4 linked regions of the Homo sapiens genome follow. The protein of the gene in region 4 interacts with the protein of the main gene of each other region in a pairwise test. Each region holds a gene or a part of one and is shown on either strand. Other genes may lie near its edges.

Evidence for each region.
Region 1: the proteins of PRDM5 (region 4) and CLCN1 interact in binary tests that used the Homo sapiens proteins (3 or more experiments, as listed by UniProt).
Region 2: the proteins of PRDM5 (region 4) and RASD1 interact in binary tests that used the Homo sapiens proteins (3 or more experiments, as listed by UniProt).
Region 3: the proteins of PRDM5 (region 4) and FAAP20 interact in binary tests that used the Homo sapiens proteins (3 or more experiments, as listed by UniProt).

What each region holds. Positions count from the first base shown.
Region 1 is NC_000007.14:143,311,154-143,319,118, reverse strand, and holds the start of CLCN1 (chloride channel protein 1), read right to left. Parts: upstream 3,009-7,965; 5' UTR 2,907-3,008; coding exon 2,727-2,906; intron 1-2,726. UniProt on the Homo sapiens protein: Voltage-gated chloride channel involved in skeletal muscle excitability.
Region 2 is NC_000017.11:17,493,934-17,500,464, forward strand, and holds RASD1 (dexamethasone-induced Ras-related protein 1 isoform 1 proprotein), read right to left. Parts: upstream 2,463-6,531; 5' UTR 2,249-2,462; coding exon 1,963-2,248; intron 1,752-1,962; coding exon 1,192-1,751; 3' UTR 504-1,191; downstream 1-503. UniProt on the Homo sapiens protein: Small GTPase. Negatively regulates the transcription regulation activity of the APBB1/FE65-APP complex via its interaction with APBB1/FE65.
Region 3 is NC_000001.11:2,191,762-2,199,288, forward strand, and holds the start of FAAP20 (Fanconi anemia core complex-associated protein 20), read right to left. Parts: upstream 3,012-7,527; 5' UTR 2,989-3,011; coding exon 2,927-2,988; intron 2,373-2,926; coding exon 2,237-2,372; intron 2,150-2,236; coding exon 1,878-2,149; intron 1,215-1,877; coding exon of another isoform or gene 1,097-1,214; exon of another isoform or gene 1-1,096. UniProt on the Homo sapiens protein: Component of the Fanconi anemia (FA) complex required to recruit the FA complex to DNA interstrand cross-links (ICLs) and promote ICLs repair.
Region 4 is NC_000004.12:120,912,727-120,919,748, forward strand, and holds part of PRDM5 (PR domain zinc finger protein 5), read right to left. Parts: intron 3,365-7,022; exon of another isoform or gene 544-3,364; coding exon of another isoform or gene 529-543; intron 1-528. UniProt on the Homo sapiens protein: Sequence-specific DNA-binding transcription factor. Represses transcription at least in part by recruitment of the histone methyltransferase EHMT2/G9A and histone deacetylases such as HDAC1.

The sequences.
Region 1 (7,965 bases), on a different chromosome or scaffold from region 4:
ATGTGAAGAGGACAGAGCAGCTCCCCCAGGTCTGGTGGCCCTCCGCTTCCATCCTGAGGCAGAGCACGTGTGTCTGTGTGGGGTATACAAGAGCTCCAACCACTTTTAGCCTGCCCCACTCCCACTACACTAACTGTCCTCTGGGGCCAGGGTCAGGCCAGGCCATGTTGCTGGATTCTGGGAGAGCCTGAGTAGAAGAGATCTGATTTCACAATATGAGCAGCATTTTACACCGCAGTCCTGAACAAGCACGCACATGAATTGCCCTGCTCATGGCTGTTTGTCTTCTGGGTCAGTGACCGAGGGAGGCAGTGTTTCCTTCCAAACCCTGCGTGGGACCCAGAGAGAGAACATACTTCCCAGTGGAAGTCAGACAGCTGAGGCTGTCTCAGCTCCTCAAGGCCCCAGGCCAGTGGAGACAAGGAAGGGGGTTGCTTCATATCATCATACCTGGGCTGGGAAAACACTTAAAGGGCCAGATCTGTTCTGGCTGGTCCCATGCAGGGCAGGGTGAGGGGAGGGCAAGGGAGAAGTCAAAACTCAAGTCTACAAGTGATACAATGTCTGGGATTTGTTAAAAAGTATTCCAAGGTGGAAGCAAGGCTCAGTGGCTCACCCCTGTAACCCCAGCACTTTAGGAGCCTGAGATGGGCAGGTTACCTGAGGTCAGGAGATCAAGACCAGCCTGACCAACATGGAGAAACCTCGTCTCTACTAAAAATACAAAAATTAGCCAGGCATGGTGGCGCATGCCTGTAATCTCAGCTACCTGGGAGGCGGAGGCAGGAGAATTGCTTGAACCAGGGAGGCGGAGATTGCGGTGAGCTGAGATCGCGCCATTGCATTCCAGCCTGGGCAACAAGAGCGAAACTCCATCTCAAAAACAAAAAACAAAAAACAAAAAACAAAAAAAAAGTATTCCATGGTGTGTAGAGTGGTGAGGGTGGGGAAGGGAAGAATAGATGGAACAATAGTGACAAAATATTGACAACTGGTGGGTACTTGGGGCTTCACTATACCATTCCATTTTTGTGTAAGTCTTCCATAATAAAAATTAAACAAAGAAAAACTAATCCAAACTCTTGTTTACTTTTGAGACCTGTAGAAAACAGGCCAATTCTACTCCCCAAACTAACCATAGCTTCCCAACACGAGAACTGTCATCAGGAAGTGCCATAATGGCACTGTTACTCAAGTTGCCATCCCACCCAGATACAACCATGTACACGAGTGAGAACACAGGGCCAGGGGGAGGGGTCTTCCCTCCTGCTGATCCCACACAGTGTTCAAAGGCCTAGTCAGACCCCGCTGTCTCCAAGAAACCTTCCCAATGCTCGATTCCAGCCTACACTGACCTGTATGTCCCTCTTCCCTACTGGGTCCCTAGCGCTGCCTTTGCAAATACTCCTGGGGGTTGGTCAGGGACTGAGAGCAGATCCTTTTGACCCCCAGTGCTGAGATCCCCTGCATAGCTCATGCCTCAGCTTCCCAGCCTTAAACCTAAAGGAACTGAAGGCTCCCTGTTAAAAAAAAAAAAAAGAAAGAAAAAAAAGCCTTTTAAGTTCTGACCAGACTGGGCACAGTGGTTAACACCTGTAATTCCAGCACTTTGGGAGGCCAAGGCGGGTGAATTACCTGAGGTCAGGAGTTCGAGACAGCCTGGCCAACATGGCAAAACCCCGTCTCTACTGAAAGTACAAAAATTTGCCAGGTATGGTGGCAGGTGCTTGTAATCCCAGCTACTCAGGAGGCTGAGGAAAGAGAATTGCTTGAACCCGGGAGGCGGAGGTCGCAGTGAGCCAAGATAGCACCACTGCACTCCAGCCTGGGAGACAGAGCGAGACTCCATCTCAAAAAAAAAAAAAAAAAAAAAAGTTCTGGCCAACTGCCCTCTAGACAAATTCTATCCTCTGTTATTCTCTGCATTCTTTGGAGGGAGAGGCACACTTACTTATTAACCATGACCTATCTTTTTCCATGACAATTTCACAACCTTTCCTTTAGTTGTGCCCATCCCCATTCCCCCTTTCCTAGGTGTTCATATCCCACCAATCCCACAGCGGGAGGCTGCTCATCCATAGACACTCCTAATTAGCCTGCATGCTTCTGTTGCTGGGATCACATCTCTGCCCTTTTCCAGGTGCCTAACACTTAATAGGTTCTTACTTGATCATCTTGCGACCTAAAAGCTTGTACATCTCTGCTCATTTTGACGTTGGTAGATCTTTGATCACTGATAAGCAATTCAGTCTGTTTTCTACACTTGCCCAATTCCTTTCTTCTGCCTTCTGCAGAAAGATTCATGTTTGTGTGTATTCTGCAGAGGGTCCCAGAGGCAGAAATCTGGCAGTGTCTACCTGTGGGTGAGGGTGTGGGAGACAGCTCCCAGCACACTGCAGTGTGGGCTCCTACGCAATCCACTCCACGTAGGTTATGTAAGCACGAGCTATTCATGCATGTGAGGCTCTGCTGTTTCCCCATATGATTTGGGTACTCTGTTGGTAAAGGTTGTATGAAAGTGCATGCATATCTCTCTAAGTGCATACTTAAGTGAGCCCAGACTTTCAAAGATTTTCATATTTTGAACACATCACCACGTACTTGTTTTTTAAGTTAAAAAAATGTAACACTGCTCCCTCTTTTCACCCAATTCCTCATTTTCACCAGTCTCTGGCACCACTGTCTCCCCTCATCCATGGCTCCCCTCTCCCCTTAGAGCACTTTACCTGTGTGGGGTGGACGTTGTGGCGGGGGCCTGCATCCTTCCGGAGCCTGTGCTGGAGGCCCCCATTCTCAGAGGGCAGTCCGTAGCTGGTGCAGTGTTCAAAGGGCATATACTGGTACTGGGGGTCACTACCCCACCAGCTTTGTTCACCCCCACGCTGCTGTGACCGGGATTGCTCCATATTCCCTCCCCCCGAGCCCCGGCCAGGCCTTGGCCTGCTTGCCCCTGTCCTTCCCCCAGTGTAGCTCCTTAAGCCTCTGCTCTTGCTGTCCCCAAGGCGTCTGGGGCAGCATGCCCACCTCCAGCTATTTATAGACCCCTCTCCGTCACATGACCCCCCACTGCCACATCTGATCTGCTTGGGGTCGAAGCAGGTGTGAGTGCAGTGTGGGGGTGGGGGTTGGGATGAGAACCTGAGGGACAGCCCCACAGGGAATTCCCTCTGCTGAGCCAGTGGCATTGTCCCCCTTCTTAGTCACCAGTAGTAGGCTTCCAGCTCCATGTCACTGGTCCCTCTATAAATATCGCCTGGACCAGGATGAGAAACTGCTGAGTATGCTCTCAAACCTATGTGTAGAGCCGGATCTGCATGGAAGCCCTCCAGTTGCCCATCTCTCTTCTTCAGGATGCGGAAGGTGAGGGGTGGGTGCTGGATAAAGATGAAGCGACTCGAAGTTCTGGAAACACTGGCACATTAACTCACCTGGGAAAGTAACTGGTGCCTCTCTGCCACATCTCCTGGCCAGCTTGTTCCCAACTCTGTGTCCACCCAGGGTTCTGTCTGGCCAGCTCTGCCAGCCCATCCCATGTCCAGCGTTCTTCTCTAGCTCTTTGCCCTTCTGTCTGCCAGAGGCTGCTAATAACAGCTTGGGGGCATCCCCTGATCCCATCCTTATCACTCACTGGGTGTGGAACACTTATGGGAAGTGGGAAGTCGAGGGTCGGTAATAGCCTTGGGTTCTAGAATTTCTCCCACTTCCCAGACTGTTAGGTGTCAGCCACACTGCCAACCCGGAGGGACTGAGCTTCCATTTGGACTGTGGAGTGCCCACACTGGCTCCATCAGATAGATAACAAGGGAGATAACAGGGGAGAATCGAAAGTAGAAAGAGGCACAGGGAAGGGAGAGGTGGGAAAGGGGTGAGGGCTTCTCATGACAAGCCCGACAAACATGAAAGATGATGGGGAAGTGCTCTCTGCTATTCTTCCCTTTTCAGGTCAATAAATACTTTTTTGGCCAAGGACAAACTTTTCTTCCTGGCATCACGTTATAAAACCAATTTTCCTATGACATGTCTTCCCTATGAACTCTTCACTGTAGGAGAAAAGATATGAACTGAGCCAAAGTAAAGTTTAGGATGCATTACCAAGTGGGGTCTGTCCCAGGACAGTCCAAGTTCAGGGACTGCAGGGTAGGGACACCAAACATCTGGTCTACAATGTGATTTTGACCTAGGCTAAATGGAACCACCCAAAGCAGGAGGGAAGCCAATATCATTAAAAGTACTTTTTCTAGGGCCTCAACATCATTAATCATCAGGAAACCAAAATCATAATGCAATATCGCCTCATACCTGTTAGGATGGCTATTATCAAAAAAGCAAGAGATAGCCATTATTATGGCTATGGATATTATGGTTCATGCTTATAATCCCAGCAATGTGGGTGACCAAGGCGGGTGGAATGCTTAAGCCCAGCAGTTCGAGACCAACCTGGCAACATGGGGAGACCCTGTCTCTATAAAAATTATAAAAATCAGCCATGTGTGGTGGTGCACGCCTGTAGTCCCAGCTACTTGGGAGGCTGAGACAGGAGGATCACTGAAGCCCGGGAGGTGGAGGCTGCAGTGAGCTGGGAAGGCACCACTGCAATCCATCCTGGTCTACAGAGTGAGATTATGTCTCAAAAAAAAATTAAATAAAAAGATGAGATAAATGTTAGTGAGAATGCAGAGAAAAGGGAACCCTTGTGCACTGTTGGTGGGAATGTAAACTGGTATAGTCATTATGAAAAACAGTATAAAAGTTCCTCAAAAGGTAAAAACAGAACTGCCATATGACTCAGCAACTCCCATACATCCAAGGGAAAGGAAATCAGTATCTCAAAGAGGTATCTGCACTCCCATGTTCATTACAGCATTATTCACAATAGCCTAGAAATGGAAACAACCTAAGTGTCCACTAACAGATGAATAATGTCATGTGTATATAAATATATATAATGGAATACTATTCAACCCTGACAAAGAAGAAAATCCTGCCACTTGTGACAACATGGATGAACTTGGAGGACATTACGCTAAGTCAAACATTGCAGACACAGAAAGAAAAATACTGCATGATTGCACTTGTATGTGGAATCTAAAATAGTCAAACTCATAGAAGCAGAAAGTAGAGGGTAGTTGCCAGGGGCTGGGCTGGAGTAGGGGGTGGGAGAATGGGGAAATTTGGTCAAAGGATACAAGGTTCACTTATACAAGATGAGAAAGTCCTGGAGATCTAATGTGCATGGTAACTATAGGTAGTAATACCACATACTTGAAATTTGCTAAGAGGGTAGATCTTGAATGTTCTCACCTCCCTGCACCCCCAAAGCAACTATGTGAGGTGATGGATATGTTAACCGGCTTGATTGTGATGATCATTCACAATGTACACATATATCAACACATCAAGTTGTACATTGTTGGAGGCCGCACAAATGTTTCTTATGATTAGGTACAATTGAAGCTTGTCAGTAACAATATGAACCTGTGATCAATTCAGCAGCTGACCAATCGTTACCTCCTTCTTGTTCTTGTTACCCAGTAAATATGAAGGGCTGAGAAGCTCGGCAGGGGAGCTGCCTTTGCTCACTAGAAGCAGGGAGCTCTCTTCTTCTTCATGTTGCCTTTCCTTAAAACAGTTTCTTTTGTCTTAAGTTTTCATTTCTACATTCGTCCCTTTGTTCGGTCATAATGATGGTTTCAAGTGGTAACAGTAGTAACTGCTGTAATCACGGTCTCAAGTAGTAATTAAATATGTATAATTTCTAGTTGTCAATTATACACCAATGTAGCTAAAAAAAAAAAAAAACAAAACACCTGCTCTAACAACAATCCTACAAACCTCAAGGCCTATAATCTCTCCAAAAAATTACAAATGTGTGATGAATTGAGAGACTAAACATTCTGTGATGATACCCACCTTTTCTGCAGGCAGAAAATAAGGATAGACATCTATGGGATTGGTATGAGCAGAAAGGATTACTTTCTTAACAAAGAAAATAGAATCTGTGGGTTCCTCCCTCCTTCTGAGCCTCTACCCTGCCTGCTGTGTGGGAGACAGGCAGAGATGGCAGGTGAGATCGCCAAGGCTCAGGTCGCTCGGCCTGGTGGCAACACTGTCTTCGGGAAGATCATCTGCAAGGAAATCCCAGCCAAAATCATTTTTGAGGATGACCAGTGCCTTGCTTTCCATGACACTTCCCCTCAAGCACCAACACGTTTTCTGTTGATATCGAAAAAACATATATCCCAGATTTCTGCAGCAGAAGATAATGACGAAAGTCTTCTTGGACACTTAATGATTGTTGGCAAGAAATGTGCTGCTGATTTGGGCCTGAATAAGGGTTATCAAATGGTGGTGAATAAAGGTTCAGATGGTGGACAGTCTGTCTGTCAAGTTCATCTCCATGTTCTTGGAGGTTGGCAGATGCATTGGCCTCCTGGTTAAGCACATTTTGGTGATAATTTTCCCTTCTCTGGGCAATGATTAAGTTAGGCAAGTTCCAGTATGTTAAGTAGCACACTTATTTTTTGCCTGTGTATGGAGAGATTCAAGAAATAATTTTAAAACCGCATACATAATAAAAGACATTGTTGCACACACAAAAAAATAGAGTGCCAAGGTAACACTGCATTCCTTGGAGGACTTCAGAAACAAGATTCTCCCATTTGAGGAGTATAGCTTTCCTGAAAGTGATCAGTTGCTGTAGAAACTTGATAAATATAAGCAGCAAGATATGAGATACAATTATGACTTTCTTACTATTTCTGAGAAAGACAGGGCCCTAAAACAGAGCAGCCTAGTCATGGACTCTGAGATTTGAAGGCAGAGACCAGTGGAGTAGGGAAGTGCTCACATCCAGCCAAGCTGAGTGGAAGCGTGTGGTCTAGAAGGAAAGCACCAACTGCGATTCTTAAAACCAGATTCTGAAATTAGGAGGGTCAAAGACATGTACAGACTGCCAGTGCTGGTGGGCAAGGGTTTGAGAGTAAATATCCTGTGTTTGAAATTAGGAATAGTTTAAATCCCATGGGTTTAAATCCCTGCAAGAGAACAAGAAAAGAAAATGTAAACCATGCCCACTCCTCACTCCATCATCCCGCTGGGCTTAGTAGCTTAGGTTCTTATTTGGAGGCACAAAGATGGGCTTCTAGGGATTCCTGTAAGGCTCCTGAATGTGGAAGCAAATTCATAAGCATGCATAAATGATATATATTCTTTCGGGTTTTATTTATTTTATTTATTTATTTTTTGAGATGGTGTCTCACTGTCACCCAGGCTGGAGTGCAATGGCGCGATCTCTGCTCACTGCAACCTCCGTCTCCCGGGTTTGAGCGATTCTGTCACCTCAGCCTCCCGAGTAGCTGGGATTACAGGCACTTACGGTCATGCCCGGCTAATTTTTGTATTTTTGTAGAGATGGGTTTCTCACCATGTTGGCCAGGCTGGTCTTGAACTCCTGACCTCAGGTAATCTGCCCGCTTTGGCCTCCCAAAGTGTTGGGATTACAGGTGTAAGCCACTGCACCCGGCCTCTTTTGGGGTTTTAAATAGATCATCCTAGGGTCCATTATACAAAAAGTTTAAAAGCCCATAGGCTTATAGAATTGCTATTTGAAGGAAAATCGTAAAAAGTTGCCATGCAAGATACATGGAGGAGAAGTTTTGTGTTGGGTATAGGTGAAAGAATTTTCTTTCTGGGTTACACCCTTGTTTTCAGACTCTCACGTCTTCCAGTCTGGCCTCCCCAGCATAGTGGGCAGTAAAACCCTTATGTTCTTTAAAGGTGTTTTCAGTCATCACTTTCCCTCTGCATATCCAGGCAGCCATGGAACCCGTGGCCACCTACTTTCTGAAATTTCAGCTAAGCTACAACTTCCTCTGAAGACACTTTGTATTGTATGCCACTGGCGGTCATGTCTCCTCTCCTCTTTATTGTGGCTTGCCTCCTTATTCTTTTTTATTTTTTTTTTTT
Region 2 (6,531 bases), on a different chromosome or scaffold from region 4:
GTGAGCGGGTGGTGGGGGCGCGCCAGGATGGTCCTGTTTCCAGATGGGGTCTCAGGCTCTTTCCCCAGGGCCTGACTGATGCCTCCAACAGTCCGAAAGTTTGCCTGGGCCCACACTGAGTCTGGTGACAAAATGGTTAGGCACAGTTCCAGTGGCTTTTACGCTGAAGAATTCAGAACATTCTCTCAGAAAATGAGGCCTTTTGTCATCTAACCCAAAGAAAATTAAGCGGGTGGATGGCTAGAAAGAGTTCATCTCCAGGGGGGACCCTGAAATCCTTTATATTCTTCCCGGTTTTCTAGGGAACCATCCCCTACATAGATGCCCCAGGCATCTGGGGCTTTTCTGGCAGCTGAAGCTGCCTTCAGAAGGCCAGGGTTATTTTCCAGTTCTGGGGAAGGTAAGTTCTAGTTCCACCTAAGTCAAAGCCCAGCCCTTTCCTTCTCCCCACCCTTCCCCACTCCAGCCATCTCTAAAAGCAAAAAAAAAAAAAAAAAAACCGGTTTTCCATTTTAAATTATTTTATTGTATATTAAAAAACCAAATAAAGCAATAACTTTAAAGACCTCAGACACACACAGTATAAACACCTGGGTAAGGTTTTGTTCGTGTCCATGTTGACACCGGAACTACCGTTAAAGTGCAAGTTTTGTTTTGTGTTCCTTTGTGCAGTTTCACTCACATGTAAACAAGTCACTTGGCTATGATTTGACCCACGCCCCCCCGCTTAGTTTTGGGAGGGCAGAGGCTCTACCGGCTGTCACAGCAACCCGGAATCACAGACAAGATAATGCCCCGTGGGTCCTGACCCTCAAGCGGGCATGACGGTTTCTTGAAGCCTAGCAGAGGCTGGATAACTTCACATCCCTCCCCCACCCCGCGCTCACTCTTAGGTCTTTGAGAAGATAAATCCACCCTCGGCTGGGCCCTCGCTCCCAAAGTTATGGGGGTGGCGGGCCTCAATGGGGGACCGGGGGTGGGGAATAGTCCCAGTCTTGGCCCGTTCTCTTTCCTTCCGGAGCAGATGACCGTCCCTTCTCGGTTCAGTGGCGCCTCCCCAGTGCTGGGGGCGGATCGCCGGGAGGGGAGACGCCAGTCCGCGCGCGCTCCCGGCCTGGGGCGCACCGGGCCGTTGGATTTGACTTAACAAAAAGGTCCTCCTTAGGTTGTGTCGCCAGCGCGGCGGGGCTCCTAGCTGATGACGCAGCGCTCCTTGTCCTTGGCCTGGCTGCCGGCGCTGGCCTTCTCGCGGATGTACATGAGGTCGCTGTGTACGCTGGGCCGGCGCGCGAAGGGTGCCACGATGCCAAAGGCGTCGCCCGGGTCGCCGCCGCCGCCGCCGCTGCCGGCCCGCAGCAGCTTCTTGTTCCGCAGCGCCTTCTTGTGCAGCACGTCGCAGTACTGCACCGAGACCTTGCGGTGCAGGTCTGGGCTCATCTCGCTGGGCAGCTTGGCCATGGCGAAGAGCGCGCGGAACATCTGGTCCAGGCTGCTGTTCTTCTTGGCCGAGATCTCGAAGTAGGCGCAGCGCTGGGGGTCGTCGCCCACCAGCTGCTCGATCTCGCGCTGGTCCACCTCGCGGTAGAAGTCGCGGTCACCCTTGTTGCCGCAGATGACCAGGGGCACGTCCACGTTCTCCTTGGTTTTGTTCTTGAGGCAAGACTTGGTGTCGAGGATCTGCTGCCTGAGCCGCTGCACCTCCTCGAAGGAGTCGCGGTTGTCCAGACTGAACACCAGGATGAAAACGTCTCCTAGAGGGGGCACAGAGAGCAGAAAAGGAGAAGGTGAGGGTGGCCGCCCAGGGGACAAGTCGGGCTGACTTTGAGGCCGCGCGGGGCGCGCTAGCCTCTCTAAGCGCGAAGCGCACTACTCGGCGCGCGGCAGCCGGACCGGCGCTCGCGGGGCGCCCTGGCCGAGGGTTCCCCGCCCTTCCCTCCCGCACCTGCCCGGCCCCCGGCTCACCTGTGAGGATGGAGAGGCGCCGCATGGCGGGGAACGGGTGGTTGCCGGACGTGTCGAGGATGTCGAGCTGGTAGACCTCGCCGCGGATGGAGTAGAACTTGCGGTGGAAGTCCTCGATGGTAGGCGTGTAGGCGTCCTCGAAGCGGCCGGTGAGGAAGCGCGACACGATGGCCGTCTTGCCCACCTTGGACGAGCCGAGGATGACCATGCGATAGCAGTTCTTGGCCGGGATACTCAGCTCCGAGTCGCTCGGGCACATCTTCTTGATCATCGCGGCCAGTTTCATTGGGCAGAGGGGCCGCGAGGGCGGGCGCGGGGCCGAGAGAAGGGCAGAGAGCGGCTGAGGGTCGCTGGGGTGGCACGCGGGGTGAGCGGCTGGAGGGCTCTGCTCGGGCTGGGCGCGGCTCGGGCTTGGGGCTCCGGCTCCGCTCGGGCTGGGCTCGGGCTAGGCTGGGCTCGGCTGGGGTTCTCCCAGGATCTGGGCACAGGCCGCTTGCTCTGGCTTTGGCGCCCGGCCGCCGCCCTTATATGCAGCCTGCTCGGCTGCCCCGCCCCGGCCCTCCCAGCTCGGTGCGTCACGCCCCGCGGGGCCCGCCTCCCCCGCACCGGCTCCCAGTCCCGGCGACCTCGTCACCCGCTGCCGGGCTCCTGCTCTCTGGGCGCGGGGGCTGGGGGGAGCAGTCCAGGGTCGGGCTGAGGCTGGAGGCGCTCGGACTCCGCTTTTCCACTGCCGCGGGCTCGGCGGCCGCAGGGGCGTCGGGGTTCTGGTCCCGGCGGTGCCCCTGTCCCTCTGCGACTTCGGGCAAGGACCCCCATTCCTGCACCTCCCGCGCGCGTACACTTATTTTCTTTGGTTCTCAGTTTCCCCAGAGAATAGGAATCTAGTAAGTAACCCAGTAAGCGCAGCAGCGTTTGCTGAGTGCTTGCGCGGACCGTATATTGCAGTCCTCAGAGCACAGCCCCAGCCCCAGCCCCCTTCCGCTCCGGTCCCCAGCCGGGCTCTTGTTCCCGGGAGGCGACCGCCGGGCGGACGCGGGGTTTCAGGGCCTCAGGCGCGGAGCTCGGCACCGCGCGCTCGGGCCGCCAGAGGGCAGCAGAGGGCCCGGCCGGCGGCTCGGGGAGGCTGTGGCCGCCGCGGGCAGAGCTAGAACAGAGGCTAGGAGCAGGCGGGTGGGGAGCGGCAGGGATGGAGCAGGGGTCTCAGGGCGCCTTGCTGGGGCCCAACAGGAGCGGTCCCCAACCCCGCGCTCTGCTGCAGGCCTCAGCCTGCTCCTTTCTCCCAGCCAGAGATGCTCTGTGGTATGGAGGGCTCTGCAGCCAGCGGCCCACCCCGTCCATCATAGCATTTTGGGCTTTTACTGTGCCGCGCGTGGGCCGACGTTCTCATTGTCTAGCTGAGAGACCTGGAGCTCAAAGCCACAGCGAGCCAGGAAGGCCCTGGGAGCACAGCACAGCCTCTTGCTTTCTCCTGGGCCTCAGTTTTCTCTTCTGGAAGATACTGATTCTGGTTCTGTGATTAAGGATGAAAATATGCAAATGCTTTAGGAGGGCGGGGCCTGGTAATAACAATAGCAACAATAACAGTAGTATTGACCCATGAGGCCTGGTGGGGGTACTCTCAAGAGCACACCAGGTCGATCAGTAACCAGGAGTGGGGTGATGTTGCTGAACATTGGCAACAGGCTGTCTGGAGCCAGCTCCTCAGCCCTGAGCTCTTGAGGCAGTCACTGCTCCTCAAGGCAACCTGTGTGCTCAGTGTTTTGCTTTGGCCACGTCTGACTTACGAGAAAACTAGGGAGCCATTAGCTGGCACCACCGGCCCAGCTGTCAGGTGGTGGTCTGCAGGCAGTGCTGTGAGTGCCATACCACCCACCCCATGCCTACCCACCTCCCTCCCACGCTGGCACTTGCTGTAGGGGCTGCTGCAGGACACCACTAACTTGTTTCTCAGCCCAGCTTGGCCCCCATCCTCAGAGTCCCTGCATCTCTCCCAGGCCTCACTCTTACTGTCAGATATTTCAAATGCACGCATCACACAGTGAGCATCCAAGGGCTCATCAGTGGCCCTGGCCTGGCTCTGATTCCTGGTGTCACTTATGCAGCAGTTATCCGACAGGCTAGCTGGGGCTGGAGCCCCGCCATTCTTGGTTCCTGCCCCCATCTGAGGTATGTCTGCCAGAGTCTGGGAGAAGGGGAGAAGGAACTGAGTCGCAGCCCTGGATATAGGGCTGCAGTGGTGCAGGGTGTTCACTGCATAAAGGAGCCAGTTGAGGGTACATGGGGGGGCTCAGTTAAGGTACGGACCTGAACCACCTTCAGACTGAGCACCGCCTTCCTGTGCCTCCCACAGCGGCACTGCATGGGCAGCCGGGCTCTAACTTGGGATGACTGATGGCCAGGGCTATAGTGAAGGTGGACCCCACACAGCCATTGCCTCCTGGGGCTCTAGTCCCAAGAGGGTCCATTTGATATGAGTGGAGGGCCCGAGGGTCAAGGATCACAGCCCAGCTCTCCCCTGGTCAGTGTCCAGGCTGGCCCCTTAAATCAGGAACATGACACTGGCAGGCACTGATCTAGCCTGTGTCCTCAGCCACAGTGATTCCTGGTACCATCTGTGCATGGCCGTCTGCCCTACGGATGCTGGGTTGTGAAGACCCAGGCCCACCTGCCATTCCCATTCTGAATGCCCCAGAGCGCCTCCTGTCAAGGAGGTGGCCTCTGGGACTTTACTCCTCAAGCAGCAAGCCAACTTCCTTGTTTCCGCCCTCGTCTTTTCTTTTAAAAGGGCATCTCTTTCCTTTTATTACAAAAGTAATAAATGCTCATGGTTTTTTAAAAACCCAAGCCATTTCAGAAAGGACCAGAATGAAAGAAGCACTGGGATCAGGCCTCTCTCGGCCACACCCAGGACAGCCTAGCCACCAATTCTGTGGGGTGGCATCTCCTGATGTCCCCACATGGGCGGACTCCCAACTGCATGAAGGAAGTCTTACCCCGGTGCAGCCTCTGCCACCCAGCTCTTTGTTCATGCAGGTGCCCTTTTTCCTTCTTCTGGGGTTTGCCTGTGTGACTTTATGCCAGGCCCTACCCTAGGCTGGCTAATCAGAGTGGCCGGGGAGGACTGGGGGCTGGAAGACAAACAGGAACAACTCGCAACTCACAGAACCATCCGCCCCGTGGATCCCGGAGTCCCACAGAGAGGGAGCACGTGTACTGGGCTTCCCAGCACTCCCGCCGCCTGGGCCCTGTCAGCCATCGCGGCATTTGATGTCCAGGTTGATCACAGTCCCATGCTGTATGCAATAAATAATTCTGTTTTCTGTGTGTTTGGGGCATGAGACAACAAACAGCGTATATGAGGCTATGAGCCTGTCTGTAAATAGTATTTACCTGCAGTGCAGCAATTTTGCTGCTTAGAGGGGAGGGGAACTGTTTAAAATATTTGACAATGTCGGGGGTGATCTGGGGGTGGGCAGGTGGACCCACCCCCCCCCCACCAGCCCCAGGCAGGAAATGCCAGCCACACAGCCTCATTTGAGGGCAAAGAGCAATTAGAAGGTTCTTGAGAGCTGGGCCAGAGGAGAATGCTGGGCACCCCATCAGAGCTTTGCCTGTTGTGGTGTCCTGAGACAGAGTCCACACAAAGGCCAGAAGTGGCTACTTCAGGTGACAGGAACCCAGAGCACCCTCGGGCCTGGGCATTGCCGTGCTGGCCCGTGCGGCCAGAGCCCATCTCTACCAGCGCCTTGGACAGAGGAGGCCCTGAGGCACGCTTCTATCCTGTGTGGCCCTGGTACGCCACCTCCTGAAGAGGAGGAAAGGGGCAAATAGAGCTGGCTTTGCGTTCCCTCTGACAGGCTCCCCTCATCAAGCTGAGATTTTAACTCTGGTAGATTCCTCATCAGTGATGAGCTCTGTACCCGACAGAGCAGACCCTTCCAGCAGAAGCCAGTTCAGCCCAAGGCTCCCGGCTCTGCCCCAGGAACCAAGGGTCAGGATGCACGGAGCTTTGCTGCCCGGCTCAGCCCATCCATCAGCAATATGTCCTCAAAGGCCGTGTGTGCAGAGGTGCTGGCGGAGGGAGTGAGCACCTGTGCAAGCAGGAGCAGGACGGAGGCACTGGATATGGTCAGACCGGACGCCTCTCATGCCCCTCAAGCCCTGAGACAGATTCTGGATTCTAGAAAGCAAAGAGAAAACCTTGAGGAGCTCCATGGGTGATAAGGGAGGCACTGCCTGAGCACCTGCTTTATACACAAGGCAGTCATGACTATGATGGCCATTTTACACATGAGGGGCCGCAGGGTCAGTGTGTGCAGTGTCCGTCTGGCCCAGTGCCACACCATGCCTTTCCTTGGTCTCGCTCTGTCACCCAGGCTGGAGTGCAGTGGTGTGATCTTGGCTCACTACAACCTCCGCCTCCTGGGTTCAAGCGATTCCCCTGCCTCAGCCTCCAGAGTAGCCGGGAGTGCTGGTGCATGCCACCATGCCTGGCTAATTTTTGTATTTTACCTCAGGACCTTTGCATTGCCACTCCCGATGCCCGGAGGCTCTTCCTCCCTCCTGCTT
Region 3 (7,527 bases), on a different chromosome or scaffold from region 4:
TGACCAACCCAGGGCCTCGCCACATCAACAGAGACAAAACGCAGCTCTGGCTCTCAACATCCTCACCCCTCACCAGGTGCCCAGCTTCCCATCCACCCACGTGACCCGCAGGTGTCTGAAAATGCACAAAATGTCCAAATAGGACCACAAGAAGATCTTAAAGACACAAAGAACATTCTACATAGTTTGTCAAATCCAGCATTTGACGGTCCTCTGGGTGACCCGGAGAACACCAAGGCTGTGAGAAATGGGAGGCCTCCTGGCAGCTCCACTCCCCAGACCCGCCTCTGCCAGGGCTCCAGGCTCAGCAGGCGCCTGTGCGGGACAGGGCGACGGTTCAAGACCAAGTCCGGCTGTTAGACCAGACCCTCCAATCCAGGCGGCCTCCCTGCTGGGGTCCTGTGCGGTCAGGAGTCCCAGGGCATCCCAGGGTGGCTGTGCAAACCCTTGTTCCCAAAGATATGGGGCTTGTCCCCCAGCTAGCCTGCCCATGCGGTGGCCACAGCCTCGGGTGAGTTCCGGTTCCAAAGTACCGGCTCTCCCTTACGATCAAGTGTTCGAATGTGCTTGAAGCATTCCAGACACACCAAGGCCTGGACCTGACTTCATTGACGCCTACTTAGGAAAAATTGAGGCAGTCTGCCAAGCTTTCAGCAACTGCTTAAAAAGCTCAAAATGGCAAGTTTTTCCTCGTGAACGTCCTTGTCTTCAGAAGTCTTTTTTTAGACTATCTGGAAAAGCAGGCGATGCAAAGACAAAAGCCCCTCCCCGGGGGGCGGGGGGCAGCACCCTGACAGCAACAAGGATCTCAGAGCTTCAGCCAAGAGCATGGATTTCTCCCCAGGGCTCCCAACAGTACCCTCTGTCCGTGATTCAGGGTCTTACTCTGTCACCCAGGCTGGAGTGCAGTGGTGCAATCATACTTCACTACAGCCTCCAATTCCTGGCTCAAGGGAATCCTCCCACTTCAGCCTCCAGAGTAGCTAGGACCACAGGCACGCGCCACCACGCCCAGGCATGTAAAGATGGGATCTTGCCATGTTGCCCAGGCTGGTCTCAAACTCCTGGGCTCCAGCAACCCACCTGCCTCAGCCTCTCAAAGGGCTGGGATTACAGGCGTGAGCCACCGTGCCCGGCCTTTTCTTTTGTTGTTGTTGTTGTTGGCTGCCAACTTTGGACTCCGGTGCCTTCGCATTCCCGAGCTGTTTTTGCTTCTGGAAGACCAGGGGCATCAGGCATGACTGAAGGACCTGGTCTCCATAAGCTCTGAAACCTGCCGCCCATTAACTCAACCAAAAGTTACGAACCAGCATCATTCACACCACCCCAGCCCCAGGACCTGCTCCGGAGGCCAAGGGCCCAGAGGTCGCCAGACACAAGGCCAGGCACTGGGCAGTTTGGGTTATCTTGTTAGCAAAACTGGGTTCCATTCCCCTTTACTTAAAAAATACATAAAAATATACGTTGGGTTTCAAAAATAAGAAAAAGCATCTCCAGACAAAAAAGACGATCTTCATTTTTAAAACCCATGACGCACTCTCGGGAAGGTGTTCCTGTGCTCTGGGCCTGGGGACGCTGGTGCCACCAGATTCCAGGATGGCCAGGTGGACCCGGGGCCAGTGCTCCCAGCCTTCCTTCTGTGCTGTTCTGTGGGCCCCCAGCCTGCCCTGCCCACAGAGCACGGCAAGCAGGTGGACCCCAGACCCGTGACAGAGAGCCACCTGGACATGCCAGGCCACAGCACTGGGCCACCTTTCCAGTGTGAAACAGGGCTTTAAAAGCCAGCGCTGAGCTCGGCCACCTCTTGACCTTCTGAACGGCTGTGGTTTCCAAACACGGATGGATAACCGGGCCGGGCGCAGGGGTGGCCTACTCACCTGGGGGCGAACTCCTTCTGGCACATGGGGCAGCTGCGCAGGGCCGCGGCACCCTCCACAGACGGCTGCTGCTCCACCCTGGGGGCCCTGCAGGGATCAGGTGCCGGGCGCTGGGGCAGGGACCTGGCGGGGGATTCCAGGTGCCCTCCTGCCCCGTGAAGCAGCCGGTAGGAACGGCCCGGGCCCCACAGGTCCGGCGGAAAGGGTGTCCAGGAAAAGGTCTTGGGTCCGACAGTGAAGACTTCAGTGGGCTCCGGGCCGCACCTGGGCTCCTGCAACACAGAGTTGTTGGGCCTTGCCCAGCGATGGCTCCCGCCCTGGAAACCCCTTCATCGCTAAGATGGGCCCAGTGGGCACACCTGTCCTGGGAAGGCGGGCAGTGAAGGCACCTCGTGATCCAGGATCAGCTCCGGGCTCACCGTGCGCAGTAGCTCGGCCCAGAGCCGCTCCCGCTCATCACCCCCCAGGAGAAACCAGGGGCGGCCGCCAGAAGGCCTGGGGCAGACAGAGAGGGCAGACAGGGGGTACTCAGTAGCGGAAACGCTATGGTGGGGAGACCCGGGAGGGCCTGGGGCAGAGAGAGCGGGGAGATGGGGGGTACTAGAGGGAAATTCGATGGTGCGGGAGGTGGCCGGCAGGGTTGGGGGAAGGGCTGCTGGGGCAGACAGTGCGGAGATGAGGGGTACTGGGGGTGGGGGAGCGGGGTGGGTGGGTGGAAATATGGGGTCCTCAGCGGGATGAGGCGATGGTTGGGGAGATTGCGGAGGGCCTGGGGAAGGTAGAGGGTTAGATGGGGGGTGCTCAGGGGAGACGCGATGATGGGAGAGGCGCGGGAGGGCCTGGGGCGGCGCGGGGGAAGCTCGGCGTGGGGTGGGGGCTCAAGGCGGGCGCTGAATGGCGGCGCGGGGTGGGGCGACGGGCGTGGGGGCCGGGCCCGGGGGCAGGGAGCCCTCCCCAGGGGGAGAATAGAGCGGGAGGCCCGCGGGGGCGCCGGGAAGCACGTGGGAGCGGGAAAACCGGCCGCGCCCCCGCCCGGCTCCCGGCCTCACCCGCCCGCCGGGCGCGGCCTCCGGCGGCTCAACCCCAGCCGCGGCCTCCGCGCCGCCTCCATCCAAGCCCGCGCCGGGCGGAAGTGAGCGCAAGCCCCGCCCCCGCCCCTCCAGGCCCCGCCCCCGCCCCGGCCCCGCCTCCAGACCTCTGCAGCGAGGCCGCCCCCCTCCGAGACAGTCGGAACCCCAGGGGCCCTGATCCCAGCCTGTAGGGAAACTGAGGCCAGGGTTCCTTCGTCCTGCACCGCACAGGGGGGCCTGGCGTGAGGGTGGGGGGCCCAGGTGGGGGAGCCCCGCCCGTGTCCCCTTTCCCGTCCGGGCAGCCCCCGGGCCGGAGCCCCCTCCGTTACCCCGATGGCTGCCCGGCCCGCCCCGGCACTGCCTCCTCCCGGCTGCACCCAACAGCTCCCGCCCCCGTTTCCGGCTCTGCGGAGCCGCCTCTCCTCCCAGGACCATTCCAGGAGTAAATAAAGCTTGAAATCCGCCGTCGCCACCACCGTTTCTTTACAAAAGGCGGGGAACTCAAGCTCCTTAACCAAGAAACCAGAGGCGAAGTGACAAAGTCCAGGTGGCTCACTTGGGCCTCAGGGGCCTGGGCCAGGGCCCTGGGGGCAGCTGAGGGGCTTTCCTGCCTGGACCCCGGGCTCTGCGACCTCAAAGTCGGCCACGTGGTGGCAGCAGCCGCCCAGGCACCCTGGTGCCACACTTGGCTGTGCCCAGTGCCCCATGGGCCCAGGCCACTTGCCTCTCCCTTGGCCCTGCTGGGCCCTGGAGTGGCTGCCACCCTCACGGAAGGAGTGGGGTCTACAGAGATCAGGGTCAGGGGCCCTCGCCAGACGCCACTCAGGGCTCTGGGACTCCTTGGCAGTTTCTGCCCTGCCCAGCCCCAGCAGCTTTGGGGCTATGCTGGGCACCCCTCCTGCAGGGCTCCCTGGCTGTTCCTACCCCTCACCTGGCCCCTCCCAGCCCCCAGTCGTCTGTGCCCTCCCTCCAGAACTCAGCTGTGGAGCCCGGCCCTGAACCCAGGCCACCCGAGTGGCCCACCGTCCTTCAAGGGGCCCCAGCCTGGAGGCCATAGGTTGGTGTTCAGGGAAAGGGTCAGCAGCAGGGCCTGGACTGGGAGGTCCCCCTCTCCCTGCATGAGTGGTTTTCTTCCGCACACCTTCCTGCTCTAGATGCTGGAGGCCCCCAGCAGAACAAGATGGAGGCACCAACCCCCAGGCCCTTCGACTTGAGTGAGCAGATGGAGATGCAGCGCTGAGTGCTGCCCGGGCAGGGGGAGGGGGCCTGGGGGAGCTGCTGCAGGCCGTGTGGTCTCAGGGGGCCCTGTGGGAGGTAGCCTGTGGCTGGGCCTGCTCTCAGGCGAGAGAAGCCCAGCCGTGGGGTCTCTGCAGCCCCACGTCCACCACATGGCAGGTGCCAGCTGACCAAGCGCTCTCAGACAGCCAGTGTCCAGGGCTCCCCGACAGTCCTGGCTGCCCTGGCTTCAGCTCCGAGCTTCTGGGTCTTTCCTGGAAATGTCACCATGGTCTGCAGGAGGGCCTTGGGTACTTCCAGGAAGACTGGTCCCAGCCTCCCAAGACAGGAGAAAAGGCCAGGCCCAGCAGCCCATGCCTGCAATTCTAGGACTTGGGGAGGTCCAGGCAGGCAGATTGCTTGAGCCCAGGAGTTTGAGACCAGCCTGGGCAACATGGCAAGACCTTGTCTCTATAAATAAAAAATTAGCTGGGCATGGTGGCATGTGCCTGTGGTCCCACCTACTTGGGTGGCTAAGGTGGGAGGATCACCTGAGCCCAGGTAGGTGGGGGCTGCAGTGAGGCAAGATCGTGCCACTGCACTCCAGACCCCAACTCAAAAAAAAAAAAAAATAGGCCAGGTGTGGTGGCTCAAGCCTGCAATCCCAGCACTTTGGGAGGCCAAGTCGGGAGGATCACTTGAGGCCAGGAGTTTGAGACCAGCCTGGCCAACATGCAGAAACCCCATCTCTACTAAAAATACAAAAATTAGCCGGGCATGGTGGTGCACACCTTTAATCCCAACTACTTGGGTGGCTGAGGCACGAAAACCACCTGAGCCTAGGAGGCATAGGTTGTGGTGAGCCAAGATCGCACCACTGCACAACAGCTTGGGCATCACAGCAAGACTCTGTCTCGAAAAACAAAAAAAGACAGAGGAGAAAAGCCCTTGGTGACAAGTGTTTGCTCAGCTCTCTGTGCCGTGCTGGGGGTGGTGGGGGGTGTTCTTGCTCCTTCCTCTCCCTTCCCCACTCTGGCTCCCAACCCCAGGGTTCTGCTGTTGGACCCGGGGGTGGCTCCTGCCTCCTCCTCCTCTATGGCCCCCACATGGTCCAGTGCCCTCCTGCCATGGGACCGGCCGGCCTCTGGATGGGCTCCGAGCCCCCTGGGACCCATCTCCTTCCCTGCCTGGGTCCCTTGGGCAGAGCCTGGGAAACTCAGGCCCCTGCCCTGTCCTGGAGGACCATGTGAGGGACACCTGTGTGTGGCTGCTGCCCCAGAACAGGGGCCTTTCTGGGCGGGAGGACCCAGCCCCCACCCCTGGAAAGCCAAACACTAGAGCTTTGCTGGGGTCTTCAGCATCCTTCCAGCCCCTCCCGGCTCCCCCATGCAGGTGCCCTGGCCACTGGGCCCAAGAGGGGCAGAGCCGAGCAGAAGCAGGGCGGGGTCTCAAGTGACCCAGACCCGGGACACCTGCGCTGCCCGGCTGGCGCAGGCTGCTTGGGAAGCTCTCGCTGCGGGTGCCCCAAGGGTAGGAGGCACGGGCCTGCAGGGGACCTCAGGGCTGGCTGAGCCTGGCTCCAGCCCGCATCACTGAAGCTGGGGGGCCCCCATCCCCTTGAGTCTTAGCCACCCCAGTGGGCCTCATTTACCCTTGGCCACCAGGGAAGAGGAGCCAGGGCCCCAGGCCAGTGCCATGGGGCAGAAGGCAGGGCCTCTGGGCCTGGTGCTTTGGGGACGCAGAGGCAGCACAACGTGTCACAGTTGTCCTCCTGGGGGCTCTTCCCCTCCAGTTTATCTGCTGCTCTGGATTAATCTCCCCTCCTCCCATGTCACCACTGGGGAGGGGGCAGTGGGGCAGGCCCCTGTGACCTACAGCCAGAGATAAGTCCACAGAGAAAGGCACTGGGGTGACCTCTGCTCTGGGCACGTGGCGGGTGCCTCCACTTGTCAGGAAGCCTGACCCCCAATCCCCTCCCGCCTGACAGCTTCCCGACAGCTGCCTGCCAGCCGAGGGCCTGGAAGGGGACCGGCCACTCAAGACTCTCAAGACAAGGAAGCATGTTCACCTCCAACAAACATACCTTGTCCTGCCTGTCCTCAAGTTATCAGCATGACACAGCGGTGCTGGTGATGGTGATGGTGGAGGTTTCAAAGTTGAACCTGATGAAAACGCTCCACTTCTTCGGAGCCATCTGCTGCTGTGGTGACGGAGTTTTGCTTTATTGGAAAATAATTTCTGGTTGGGACTGACACGTGCACAGTGGAAATGAGTTTTTTCTAAGCCAAAATTCATGTTTACAAAAGAACGTTTCAGCTGTGGGAGTTTGCATCCCAGGCAGAGCAGAAGGTGATCGAGTGGGTGGGGGCATCAGAGCCACCCATCTCCTACTCCCGCACCTGCAGACCGGTGGGCTAGGAGGCCCCTTACCCTCTGTGGCAAAAAAGGACACATTTATGGATGATGAATCAGGCCCCAGCCCACTGAGCTGGTTTCAGAAGCCAGGCTGGCCGTAGGTCAGGGAGCCAGGCCTCTCCAACTCCTTCCACCGCGGAAGAACAAGTGTCCCAGCCACTGGCATCCTCAGAGTCACCCAAATGTTCATCTCTGCCCAGCGCTGACACCCTGCAAATCAGGCTAAGACAGCGGTGACGGGCCCTGAGGCTGGCAGGCCTAAGCAGCCCGGTGGCCGTGCACCCTCCCAATTTCCAAATGAGACCTGTGGCCGACAGGCACCCTGGGCACATGCTGAAGGCACTGGGCTGCCTCCACCCCTTCCCATGTGGCTAAATGGCCCAGCACCCACACACGGTGCCCTGGCAGTGCTCACCTGCTGGCAAGGACAGCCAAAAGGCCCGGGCAGCCTTCTGACGCAGCCAGGAACTGGGCTGTGCTCCACCACACCTGCTGGCCCGTGGATGCCAGGCAGGCACGCCCACCCATAGCCAGATGTGGTGGCATTTATGGGATACGGGAGTGCCAGGCAGACAGGCTGTGAGAGACAGTTGCCTGGGAAACATCGCCAGATCTTTGGGGCAGCAGAGCAGGTGCTCGGGCCCACACATGGGGTGCAAGAGTAGGGGTGTGCCTTGGTGCCCTTGGGCACCGACAGCCTCCTCACAGCCTCAGTGGCGGGGTCATGGCACAGGCCTGCCCCTGACCCCAAGAACCAGAAAGCCAGGAGCAGCTGGGGAGGGCCCTGGCCCGGGAGAGACAGCGGTCCTGTTTCTGAACCCCATCCCAGCCATGGCCTGTGTCTGGGCCAGCATCCCCGACCAGACAGGGCCAGCCGCCCTCTCTCAAAGTCCCCAGCACCCCTTCAAGCAGTATCCGGTTCACACCCTCCCACAGCCTGTCCTCCATCC
Region 4 (7,022 bases):
ATTGAGGGGTGAATTGTCACAACATCTGTAATTTACTTTGAAATAGTTCAGAAATAAAAAATATACATATAGATGAAATAAATACATTAAAGTGAATCAATCTGCAGTTGAGTCATTTATATTTGAAATAATGATGTTTTTCACAGAAGGAGACTAGAGTCCCCACTTAGAACATAATTATGTTTCAATGTTAAACTACTGTGCATGGATGTGCCTTTGCAATATAATTAGACCTTCAATAGTGTATTAAATGTGTTTCTTAAAAGTTCAATGTGAAAAATAACCAATCTTCCTTCCCCACTGTAGGAAGTCTGAGGCAGACTAGTTGCCTCCCTATATCCATTCCCATTAGTACTAGAACACTGATCGTGTTAAGGGTACTAATGTATCCAGGTAAAATACTATATTTATCTCGAAGAGAAGGGAGCAAACAACCTGTGAGTAGAAATCATTGTATGGAACTATCACACAAGTTCTTAAATGAAGCTGAGTCAACTAGAAAGTATACCTAATCCTGTTTCTCCCTACCTGGAATATGAGCATGATAGCTGGGGCTGAAGCAGCCACCTTGAGTCCAAGAGAATTGCAAAGACTTCTGCCCTGACATTTTGAGCCACTGAACTAATGGCCACAAACATCTTGTTCCATCTGCCAGCTTCCTGTTAGAGGGAGAACAAAAACTTCAAGTTTAATTACTGCAGTTGTCTCTCTTACTCCAGTTGATATAGCAGAGGTCAGGGGAAAGAAATGTAGTGGTGCCTATAATAAAATGGAATTATTCTTTATGAAATGCATCACTTATGAAATAATACAAAACGGAAATGCAGAAGAGATGCGACAAAAAGAATTGTGGGTATATGGTGACCTGAATGCAACACCTTTCCCCTTCACCCTCAAACCTGTTACTTTCCTCTCTTGAGCAAAACAACTACTACTAGCATCTGTGGGCAAATGGATGCAAGTGAAGCCTTAGGTTCTGGCAGAAATCTGGTGTGAGGTGTTCTCTCCAGTAGACTTAGTAATAAAGTAGAGGACAGCAGAGTAACCAGGGACAAGGACTGAAAACCAGGGAATCCCAAAAAGAATTTGAAAGTCAGAGATGGAGGGGGTCACAGCCCACAATCTTTCCTGCTCTTGATGCCCACAAAAGTACAAGGAGACCAGAAAGCTGACTGACAGGGAACTGACAGCCTATCTGCCAGTGCAGGCCCACTGAAGAGAGACCCATTTGCCTTCTACCACCTGCAGGACTGACGCCACAGAGGACTATTCAATAACAGTCTTGAGCTCCAATGAGTCAACCAAGGGATACAGCCCATACAAAGGAGCAGAGCTGCTAGAAAAAGGAAGATAAGGCAGAAGAATTAGACCCACGCTCTGTGTTCTGCAGCAGACAGAATACCTCAACTAAAGGGAATACCTGAATTATCTAAGAAAATTTAAGGAGATTCAAATACAGCACTCAAAAAAAAAAAAACTTTTAAGAGTTAAAAACCATTAACTTCCCAATTAAATATCTTTACAGAATGAATTGAAAGAAAGAGATAAGAATCAAATTCAAAAAAAAATCTCAAGTGAAAACTACGAACAGATAAAAATATGATATTTAGAATCAAATTCAAAAACAAAATCTCAAGTGAAAACCATGACCAGATAAAAATATGATATTTAGAGAACAGATCCAGGAAACCTCACATATAAAACCATAACTCCAGAGTATTTTTTTAAAGGGATGAGAAGTGTATTAATCTATTCTCACACTGCTATAAAGAACTTCCCTAAGTCTGGGTAATTTATAAAGGAAAGAGGTTTAATTGGCTCACAGTTCCACATTGCTAGGGAGGCCTCAGGAAACAGAATCATGGTGGAAGGCAAAAGAGAAGCACGCACCTTCTTCCAAGGGCTGCAGGATGGAGTGAGTGCAAGCAGAGGAAATGCTTTGTATCAACTGCATTGTATCAAAAAGACACCTGCACATGTATGTTTATCACAGCCCAATTCACAATCATAAAGAGATGGAATCAACCTAAGTGCCCATCAGCCTATGAGTGGATAAAAGAAAATGTATATATACACAATGTAATACTATTCAGCCATAAAAAATAACAAAATAATGTCTCTGGCAGCGGCTTGGATCTAGCTGGAGGCCATTATTCTAAGTGAAGTAACTCAGGAATGAAAAACCAAATACCACACATTCTCACTTACAAATGGGAGCTAAGCTGTGGGTACACAAAGGCATACAGAGTGGTATAATGAACACTGGACACTCGGAAGAGACAGGCTAGGAGGGTTATCCAAACTCCATATTGGATTTAATATACATTACTCAGTGAGTGGTACACCAAAATCTCAAACTTCACCACTATACAATTCATCCATGTAACCAAAAACCACTTGTACCCCTAAAGCTATTGAAATAAAAAATATATAAAAGTTCAGTTTCCACCAAGAAGGTTAGTAAGAGTATCACTACTATCCTAACAATGAGAATGATAAACTGCAAAATCATAACTTTTCTTAAGGAGAGCACTAGCTTACCTGTGGCCAGTGCCCTACTCCATCCACCATCCAAACAAGTAAAAAATCAACTAACATTTTAACAACTTGCTAAAGGAGGAATGTGAGACAGAATGAAGGTATAGAACTACAGCAAGCCCCAGACCCAAGAGATGCTCACAGGCATGTTCACATTATTTTCCAAGGACCTCCCCATGTGAGAGAGGTTTGGGAACAGATGGGAGAACAAAGAGACTTCCTCAGTGATGCTGTCATGCAAGAGCGGAACAGCAGCTGCTGCAAGAATGGCATGACAGTGTACACCTCCTGTCCTGACCTTTTTCTCATATCAGAAGAAAGCCTTTAGCTACTGAAGAAAAGCAATAAACTATGTCATCCCCAGGATGACCCCAGTAAAGATCCACCACTGCGGGGAGAAGGGAAAGAAACAGTACAGGCTCAAGCACTTAGACCACAACCATCAAAGGACTCCTACCACTGGGGAAGGGACAAGAAATGTTCACCCACAAAAGACCAACCACTGACACAAGTTAAAAGATTAGCTCTCCTAGGGAAGAGGAGCAGGCATATTGAGAAAGCCCAACTCCCAGTGCCCAGGCAGAGAAACCCTACATAAGAGGGCGAATGGAACAAGACAACAGAGATCCTTCTCCCATACCCCTCACCATCAGCCCACCCAGCACCAAAAAATAACACAGCGAAGTCCACTGTGGGGAGAAGAACAAGAGCAGGGCAGAAGGGCAGATAAAGGCTGAGAAAATTCATTGCCAGAAGACAAGTGTTATAAGAAATGTTAAATGAAGTTCTTCAGCATTCAGAATATGATACCAGACAGAAACTTAGTTCAAAATAAATAAATGGGCCAGGCACGGTGGTTCATGCCTGTAATCCCAGCACTTTGGGAGGCCGAGGTGGGCAAATCACTTGAGGTCAGGAGTTCGAGATCAGCCTCACCAACATGGTAAAACCCTGTCTATTAAAAATACAAAAATTAGCCAGGTGTGGTGGTGGGCACCTATAATCACAGCTACTCAGGAGGCTGAGGCAGGAGAATAGCTGGAACCTGGGAGGCAAAGGTTGCAGTGAGCTGAGATCGCACCTCTGCACTTTAGCCTGGACGACAGAGCAAGACTGTATCTCATAAATAAATAAATAAATAAATAAATAAATAAATAAATAGCTAAATGTAATGGTAAAAAGTAGAGGTACATAACAAAGACAATTTGTCTTCATTTTAATTGCTCTAAAAGATCACTGATGATCTAAAGAAACAAGAGTAAAAACGTACTGTAAGATTTATAACATAAAACATAAAATGTGTGACATTTTAAAGAATGGGAAGGAGGAACTGCATTATACAATTGTATCTCACTGACACTTTGACATATCCCCTTGCTGTCTAACAGACATCTCAAAAACAACATGCCTTAAACTGAACCCGTGATCTGCCCTCTTCAAACCTCCTCCACCCACAACCTTCCCCATCTCAGTTGTTGGCTGACAATCCAATCCTTCCAATTCCTCAGGCTAAAATCCGTGGAATCATCCTGAATCCTTCCCATTCTTTCACACTTCACATCCAATCCTATCAGCATGTTCTGTTACCCCACACTACCAAAGTAGCCACTATCTTGGTCTAAACTGCTATCACCTCTCACATGGATTACTGCAGTAGAATCCTAACTCTCCCAGTTTACACACTTGCCCTGTGGCAAACTTTTCTCAACAGAACAGCCAGAGTCATGCTTGATAAACTTATGTCACTCCTTTGTTCAAAACTCTGCAGTGCCCTCTCATTTCACGCAAAGTAAAAGTCAAAGGCTTTGCAGTGGCCTAAAGGGCTCTAAGCAGTGGATCTTCCCCTAACACTCATCCCTTCATTAGCCCTCTGACCTCCTCCTCAACTGCTTGCTCATTGCATTCCAGCCACACTGACCTCCTTGTGCTTGGACCACAACAGGCAAACTCCCGTCTTAGGTCCTTTACTGTAGCTGCCTCTTCTGCACTTAGAATGCTCTTCCCGTAGATATATGTTTGGCTAATTTCCTACCACCCTTCAAATAATTGCCCAAATCTCTCCTGTTTAGTGAGGATTAACTGACCCATCTAACATGTATAGCATCCCACACACACACCCACACACCTTTTCTGCCAAGTCAACCATACCTAGCTCTTTTTCTTTTTTCTATAATTCTTATAATATTTAACATAGTATAAAATTTATCTTATAGGTCTGTTATCTTGTGTCTTCCCTCACTGGACTGCAAGCTCCCCAAGAGCCAGAATACCTATTTTCTTAACTATTGTACCCCAAAGTGAATAGTACAGGTCTTGGCATATAGAGTGATAAAGATTGTTAAATGAATGTGTAAAACAAGACCTGAATAAATAAAAATTATGGCACATCCACAGCATAGACTATAGTCAGACATTAAAAAAAAAAAAAAAACAGAGCCAAGGTAGATACAGGAATTTCCACAAGATACCGTCGAAAGAAGTGTGAGATGATGAAGTGAGTTTACTCTTTTCTTATTTTTGTAAACTTATGTTTTTTTTAAAAGTGTGCATGTGTTTGTATATTTGTGGATATAGCATTTTATCAGAATAGAGAAAAAACATTTTTAAGGAAAAGTGTATATGGAATGACCTGAGTTCAAATTTTCATTAATCCACTTATGACTGATGTAACCTTCCTCAACATCACCTCTCTCATCTATAAAACAGGGATACTAACAGCCCCCTTGCAGGTTTATTGCAGGACTTCACTAAAAACTGTGTAAAGCATCTAGTGACTGTTGTCTCTGTCACTCGCTTTTCTGCCACTAGTAACTAAAACAGTGCCTAAAAACTGCCATAGTTCAATAAATACTTATTGAATTAATTGTAGCTGCCATTATCACAAAAAATATAGTTTGGAGAAAATGTTAGAGTAGTTACATAGTTTAAAAAATGTTTAATAACACCAGGAAATACAAAGCTGCCTTGAGTCACTATGGAGAAGTGTGAATGTGTGAACACAGGGAAGAGATAGCATATACGGCAGGCTTCATGATTACTTTTCCTCTGATTATGTTTCCAGATTAGTTATCATCGGCCACCAGGAAATGTAAGCAAACATTGGCTGGCAGATTTTTAGCCCTAGGATACAAATCCATGTTTCTTCAGACAAGTCACCTTCTACACTGATCAACACAACACCTTATCCCACAAAGTCTGCTCTTCCTGTATTAACATTTATGCATGGTGATTTTTCCTCTACAGGCTTTTATTTACTTATCTGTTTCAGCTTTTTTCTTTCTTTGATTTTTTTTAACTTTGTAAAATTTGACTTTTGTTTTAAAATCTTACTGTATTTTTACAAACTCACCTTTAAGCCTTTACGTCAGGTATTTTTTTTTTTTTTTTTTTTTACTTAGGATTTTACCTCACCAAATGACCTTAGTACAAATCCCTCAGTGAGAATCAAGGTGTGTGCCTTGGTTTGGAAAGGAGGGAGTTGACACTGTGGAAGGCATAGGAATCTGAGAGGCAACTGTGAGCTGCAAGACTCCCTGCAACTCTCTGGGCTTCAGTGTTCTCACCTGTAAAATGAGGATGTGCCAATTAGATGATGTCTGTTAACTCAGCAAAAAATTACAAGATATAATTTTAGAAAAGGAGAGGCGGAGACAGGACTTTATTTCTCCTAAATGGTTGCAGCCTGCCAAGTGGCCAGCCCACAGGCTGGGAAGCATGCCTCTGGCCAAAGCCCAGAGACAGGCACTTTGAAAGAGGAAGAACTTTATACTGAACAGGCTGGCTCTCTGCACTTCTCTTCCTAGAGAATCTCCTGGCTGGCTCAGCGACTTCAGCTCTCTGCTCAGAAGTCATTTCCTCTGAAAAGTCTTCCCTGCTGACCCTCCTAAAGTAGACCCACCCCTCATTTACTCTTTAATGCCTCATCCTGTTTATTTCCTGCAATTAATTTAACACTTGCCTCAATCATTTTGGTAATCTTCCATTTTATACTTGTTTGCTGCCTATCTCCCCACATAAGAAAGCAAGCTCCTTGCAGAAAAAGACCTTGTCTGTCTTGCTCACCTGTGTATTCCCAGGGCCTAGTACAGTACCTGCCACATATGAATGATTAAATGACTGAAAGTCAGAGAAGAAAAACCTACAGCCTAAAATATCCAAAGGGAAAGAAAGCTGAGAGCAGTGTATTTCCACCTTAATCTTTCCCTTAAAATCACATAATCTGAGAGCTTGAAATAACCTTTCCACTTTGCAGTTTCAGGTACAATATCAAAAAACACCACCCACTGGTGGTTAATCATATAAGCAAGCTAGGAAAAAAATGGTCATGAAACAAAAAATGTAATGTAGTAAGGTGTCTGCTTAACTTTAAATTTTTATTGGATGTATACTTAATTTATGAGTTTTGAGTAACTAATATTAATTTTAATCTGCATAATACTTTGCAACCTAAAATGCCACATTTTCACTGAAGCATTCAACTGTGC